Linked DNA regions of Homo sapiens. The protein of the gene in region 1 interacts with the protein of each later gene in a pairwise test. Each region holds a gene or a part of one and is shown on either strand. Other genes may lie near its edges.

Region 1 (3,024 bases):
AAAAAACAGGTATCTATTATTCTGTTTCTGTAAAGATAAAGGATTATTGCTATTTTGATAACCTATGCCATGCTTAATTGAAAATTTTAAAATATTTGAATTTGTTCTTTGGATCAGTTGGAATATACTTCCTGATAAATTAATAAACCATTATTAGCAGAATCTCAGTTGCAAAGCATATTCCACTTAGCAAAAAAATTTACTAAGTAAAGCCAAGGATGATAAAGTTTATAAGCTACAGCTTTATATGTATAAACAATTTAGCTTGTGAATAGCTTTTGCTACCTAGAAGCATTTGATTTCTTTAGTTGTATTCTGCAGGTGAACTGCTCCACGATGTTCACAGGTTTTACATATTAAGGGAATTGTAGTCTTAATCTGGCATTTATAAAAGCACTTAATTTTAAACTTGCAGAAAACATGGTACTTAAATAATTTATACAATATTATAAATTTGCCTCCCTCACTACAAAAGTAAGCCAAACTACATTTCTTTCTAGTGTTGTTTCTATGCATAGTTTTATATTTGAAGTCAGTTACATACAATATCATGTATACTACGTAATATGCATTTTACACATAAAGGCACACAAGAGCCTCTTTTAAATACATAAAAACATATCTGTTGACCAACAGCTTTAACGCAAGACAGACATCAAATCCTCTAACATCATATGGTGAAATGCTATTTGTAGCTGCATTTAAAATCACAAATTCTTTCCCACATACATAAAAACTTGCAGAGAGAAAAAAGTTTTGTGTGTAAAGTATCAAAAAAATGCATTATTTTAATCTACTGATTTAAACTGTTTTTCAATAATCATATTTTAAAATCTTTACCTATTTTATTACCCAAAGGAAATCATTTAAATCTACCAATTGAAAAGAGAAACAGAATATTGATATAAATTATTTTTATTGTGTGAAAATGTCAAAATTCAGAATTAAGAATAAAAGTATAACATATAACAAAATAGGCATTTAATTGTTAAAATACACCTGGATTTACAAAACATTTTTTAAAATGTTTTTAAAATGCTTAAGGAATAAAAATTAATTTTTGAGAGAGCTATATAAAATGTGAATTCTATATTATATTTAATTTCAAAATCATTTATTTTTATTAAATGAAGCCAGTAGCTACACTATAGTAAACAGATAGAAAACACAAATTTTAAAAACACGTATACTCCCAAACGAGATAAATATTAAAAAGATAGCAAAAGTATGAGTTTAGTTTTAAAATTAAGTAAATGTTACAAAAAGCTATGCAATTTTCCCTCTAAAATCCTTTTCAAAGTTTACATTGTCTTTTCGTATTGCTTTTCATCACATTTCAGCCACCTCTCAAATTTAGGTTGTTACGAATTTTAGATCTGAAATCAAATGCTTTTACCTCACTCAGTGTGGTTGCTAAGTCCCATGTACAAACTCCAAGAATATATACAGTGCTGACTAGAGTACAGGTGACCTGATTATTAAAGTTCAGTGAGTTAAAAAATGTGAATAAAATCTGATGTTCTGAAGTACAATTTTTAAAGTAAATAATTATATTAAACGACATAAAATGTACTTAATGTTATCAGATACTAGCACATGTCTGTTGTGTCAGTACAAGTTACCAAAAGCACCAATCTTAACAAGGTGGTATAAAAATCATTCTGTTTATACTATTTTCATTGGATATAAAGGTTTGTTTTCAATTAAATGTAACATTATGAATCTATTATTAAAAATATACATCTAGAAGTTAGTCTAAATGCCAAATACAGAATCTTATGGATGCCATTCTTAAGTGCAAGAGAAGTGCTATCATTTTAAATTAAGAAATTATTTTGGAATTATTTATTTATAAAAGTAATTTTGGGCCAACATTTTTATTCTCATTACTTTAGTACACAAGCTGTTTCCCAGTTGTAAAACAGAAGTCTCTGGACCTGCAGTAGGTTTTCCAGTTTTTCTGCCTTTAATTTCATAGTTTAATTTCAAGGCATGAAAGAATTAGAATCACCTAAAAGAGTCACTGCAGCTTCTGATGGAACAAGGGAGTATAGGGAGCACCTTGATCTCTGAAAGTGTCTAACCTTTAAAATAGGACTTTACTGAGACTTTTAATAGTATCTCACAGAATGTATTTTGATTAATTTAAAAAACATTTAGGTACAAAAGGTATTTCCAGTCTCATTGAGTACTGTTTTCAAATCATGTAATTGTTAGAATAAAGATCTGAGAATCTACTACTTCGAAAATATATTATTTTTAAATTAGGTCAAATTACGATGTACACTTAAAGAACAACGCTATTACAAAACATACCTCAAGCCATATAAATATATCCTGTTTGTATAGTTCATGTCTGAAAGTAAATCAACTCTATTTTCCAGATATAATTTAAACAAATCATCTATAAAAAAGGTGTATAATCAATATCACAGTAATTAAAATTTTTAAAGATTTAAAAAAATATAAAAATAGTTTTAAAATTTTGGTTATAAATTCCTAGAAGTCCCCCTTCTATGTGCATATATCTTACAAAAAATATTTAATATCTAGAAATATAGGCTATTGAACAAATAGTAAAGAAAGTGCTGAGTCCATTGGCTCTTTTTGTAAAGTTTTCCTTCAGAAGTATGCTCATGAGTGGGGATGTATAAACCAGAGTCAACAGTAAATCTTGCTAATTTGGTCCAAATGCTGATTTCATGTACTGGTCATTGTGCTTCTTTTATTTTTTTAACCATGAAAAACACAAATAAGTAATTATCAAGTCAGGTCCTTGAGTATTAATCTTCTCACTAAAATTATTATGGTTATCTTGCCCCAGTCATCAATTTACAAGATGTTTCTTCTTCTGAGAAAGAAGAATGTCCCAGTTCACCTTGCTGATATTAAGAGAACTCCTCCATACGTCTTGTTTATGAGATCACATCATGAGCATCACTGTTAGGTCGCTGTGGCACAGCCAGGGGAGGCAGTGGCTTCCTATAGAAATCTAAGAAAAGAAAGAAAACCAAATGCACAAAA
Region 2 (3,500 bases), on another chromosome or scaffold:
TTGCTCTGATAGGGGCTGTTTTCGAACTATCCTTTTTAGTGCCTCAAACTAGATTCTGTTCAGACATGTGATAATAAGTTAGTATGAGTTTATTTTGGTGCAAAAATTTGAAACCCATGCATAGTTTTTAAATAATACATACTTTTCATGAACTTTTTGAAGATCCCTTGTCTTAACCTCTCTGTGCCTCAATTTTCTCATTTGCTAAATGTAAATGAAAATAATACTAACCTTCCTTTCATAAGGTTGTTTAATGAACAAATAGACATAACATACTTAGAACAGTCCCAGGCACATAGTAACATTCAATAAATGTTCTTATTTTTTCCATCACTGTGTGACAGAGATATTCTGAATTTTGCAATAGCAAGGATGAAAGCACACACATTAAGTTCTATTAAAATGTCAGGTATTATTTATTGTTAGGAGGATGGAGAAGGTGAGTGTTTTAGTCAGGAGTCTGAGTTGCAAATGACAGAAACTTGAATCACAGGGACATTAAGTCACCTATCCAAGGTCACGAAAGTCATGGTGTAATCAAGCTATAGTTCAAATCCAGGAAGTCTTGCAACAAGCCCATGTTCTTAACCGCTGTGCTGTTCTGCTCTTCTGTGAACCGAGTGCTGTGAGAGCATAGATATTGGAACTGACCAGGACTTTAGGGTGGGGGTCACAGGATAAAAATGGCCTTTACAAGATGAGTCATAATTCACTAGATGAAGAAGCAGAAGAATGTTCCTGGCAAAAGGAAAAGCATGTGCAAAGGCCCAGAGAATGACAAGCAGCGTAGACTGCTGAGAGAACTGTGTCCAAGATAACAGAGAAAGTGGGGAATGTGGGAAGCCTGTACTGGGACACACTGATAAGCTTTGAATGCCATGACTGTGAGTCTGGGGGCCATGGGGAGCCAGAGGAGGTGTTTGAGCAGGGGAGTGACATAATCTGAAGTGCATTTTAGAAGTATTCCTTTGACTGCTTATGTGGAGGATTCATGAAGACAAGTGCAAAAGTTGAGAAATAGTCTCAGTGAAAGCTGATGAAGTTTGACCTTAGTCAAGGGCAGTGCAGATGGAGAGGAGAGACCTAAAGACTCAGGCTCTAATGACAGAGCTTGGACTCTATTGTATCAGATCATGCCTGGGACCTCTCTCAACTGGGTTTGGCTCAGATAAACCCCAAATCCAGCTGGAGGACATGAGCCTTTTTTTGACTCAAATACAAAAGAGGCTTCCAGCATAGGCAAGAAGGCAGTCCCTCTCCTTCTCTGTGCCAAACACCTCTCAAATCCTAGCTCGGAAAGATGTCACCCTGTCTGAGAAGGCTTCTGTCTTAGATTGGGTCTTCAGAAGGACCCTGAGACAACAATTTGACTGCAAGGAATTTGGGGGCAGTGGAGAAGGGAAACAGTGAAGAGCATGGAAGAAATACAAGTGTGCCAATGAAGAGGTTACTACCAGCAGCAGTGACTCAGCCTTACTGGGGACTTCTGGGAAATGGTATTCGACATGCCTCAGTTATCCCACTGAAAGGCAACTGAAGTTCGTGGCTAGGAGCTACTCCTGGAGTGTTATTTCTTGGCAGTCTTGGCCAAGTGTGCTTCTGAAACCGGAGAAATCTGAAGACGTCACTGGTGTGAACAGGAATGATGGGCACTGAAGCGAGAGACGGAGGACTGTCTTAGTCCATTTGGGCTACTATAACAAAATACCTTAGACTGGGTGATATTTAAACAATAGAAATATATTGCTTACAGTTCTGGGGGCTGTGAAGTTCAAGATCAAGGCACTGGCAGATTCAGTGCCTGGTGGGGCCTTGCTCTTTGCTTCAAAGACAGTGCCTTATTGCTGTGTCCTCACATGGCAGAAGGAAGGCTCTTAGGCCCTTTTTATGAGGAAACTAATCCTATTAGTGAGGGCAGAGCCCTCACGACCTAATCACCTCCCAAAGTCCCTGCCTCTTATTACCACTACAATGGGGATGAGGATTCCATGTATGAATCTGGGGGGACAGAAACACTGAGACCATAGCAAGGAGGTGCTGAGGTGTCTGCCCTTCTCAGACCCCACTGGCTGACACAGCTGCCTTTCACCTTTGCTCCATAGCTCACTGTCTTAAACTCTGTTTTAGCCCTTGTCTCTCTGGGAGGTGAATGATTTGTCTTCATGTCTGTCTCCTTGAGCAGTGGAAGCATATGAACCAAGGATGGGCTAGGCACCAAACCTTGAATGCCTAGTAGAGGGGTGGACTACAGTCTAGGAATCTAGGACCAGGGATGGGCTGGGCACCAAACCTTGAATGCCAAGTAGCGGTGTGGACTACAGTCTAGGGGTCTAGGTGTCTCATAATAGACCTAAGATGAAAGTGAAACATCTTATAGTCATATCATTTTCAAAACGCAAAGATGAGGATTGTCTGAAGGGGTCCAAGAGTTAATTTATGGTATGTCTGGGCTTCTGTGGGAATTTGAGACTATAATCTCCACCGAGGACTCATATTTACAAATTGGGATACCTGTTGGTCTGGTGAGTGGTACACAGAACAGGATACATGGGGCATTCCTTCTTGGGTCAGCAGGAAGATTTGATAGAAAGTAATTGTATATTTTTAAAAGCACGAATTCATTGTGGAGCAGGATACCAAGCATGGGTGGAAGAAAGTCAGTTTTGCGCAGAATGTGATGCAGATTTCCTGGCCCAGGGGGTGATACATGGATGTTCTTCTGCCTGGAGGCCCACAGTGGTGTGCTGCAGCCAGCTTATGCTGGCTTGGGAAATGTGCTTGTCAAATTTTTAGGAATTCTAATAGCCAGTTATTAAATACAGACCTTAATACACACACACACACACACACGCACACACACACACACACACAAGTTTTTCAGAGAGCCAATTGTTCAACATTTACCAACACACATCTGTTGTTTGAGGGATATTTGGCAGAAAGAGCCTGGGAAGGTGATTTGGGTTTGAGAAGCACTGTAGTTTTTTTTTGTTTGGTTTTTAGAGACCAGGTTTCACTGTGTTGCCCAGGCTGGACTTGAACTCCTGGCCTCAAGCAATCATCTTCCCTAAGCCTCCCAAGTACCTGGGACTATAGGCACCTGACTAAGAACTGTTTATTGGTTGGCATGGCCAGATTTACTTGTTAAAAATTTAGGCTATGTCTTAGTCATTTTCCTTGTACCAGCTTCCAGCCCAGGGCATAAAATGTGGTCAGGAATAAAGTTTGCTAAATGGATGGATGAATGAATGATAGCTTGGATCAAGCTTTTTCTCTAAGTTGTAGAAACATGTTTTCATCATTCAACAGATATTTTGAGTGCCTACAATGTGCCAGGAACTGTTCTTGGCACTGGGAACACAATCCCTGCTCTCCTAGAGCTTGCATTCTAATAGAGGAGAAAACATATAAAGCTATAAAATCTGCTTTCAGGTGGTAACCGGTTACATAAAAGAACATGAAGCAGGATAATGGGCTGGAGACAGAGTTTCATGCTGCTT

The links. The genes of interacting proteins can lie anywhere in the genome.
Region 2: the proteins of ARL13B (region 1) and SLC13A3 interact in binary tests that used the Homo sapiens proteins (3 or more experiments, as listed by UniProt).

The regions. Positions count from the first base shown.
Region 1 is NC_000003.12:94,053,155-94,056,178, reverse strand, and holds the end of ARL13B (ADP-ribosylation factor-like protein 13B), read right to left. Parts: intron 2,993-3,024; coding exon 2,916-2,992; 3' UTR 501-2,915; downstream 1-500. UniProt on the Homo sapiens protein: Cilium-specific protein required to control the microtubule-based, ciliary axoneme structure. May act by maintaining the association between IFT subcomplexes A and B. Binds GTP but is not able to hydrolyze fit; the GTPase activity remains unclear.
Region 2 is NC_000020.11:46,616,960-46,620,459, reverse strand, and holds part of SLC13A3 (Na(+)/dicarboxylate cotransporter 3), read left to right. Parts: intron 1-3,500. UniProt on the Homo sapiens protein: High-affinity sodium-dicarboxylate cotransporter that accepts a range of substrates with 4-6 carbon atoms, such as the citric acid cycle intermediates succinate and alpha-ketoglutarate (2-oxoglutarate), as well as other compounds including N-acetyl-L-aspartate.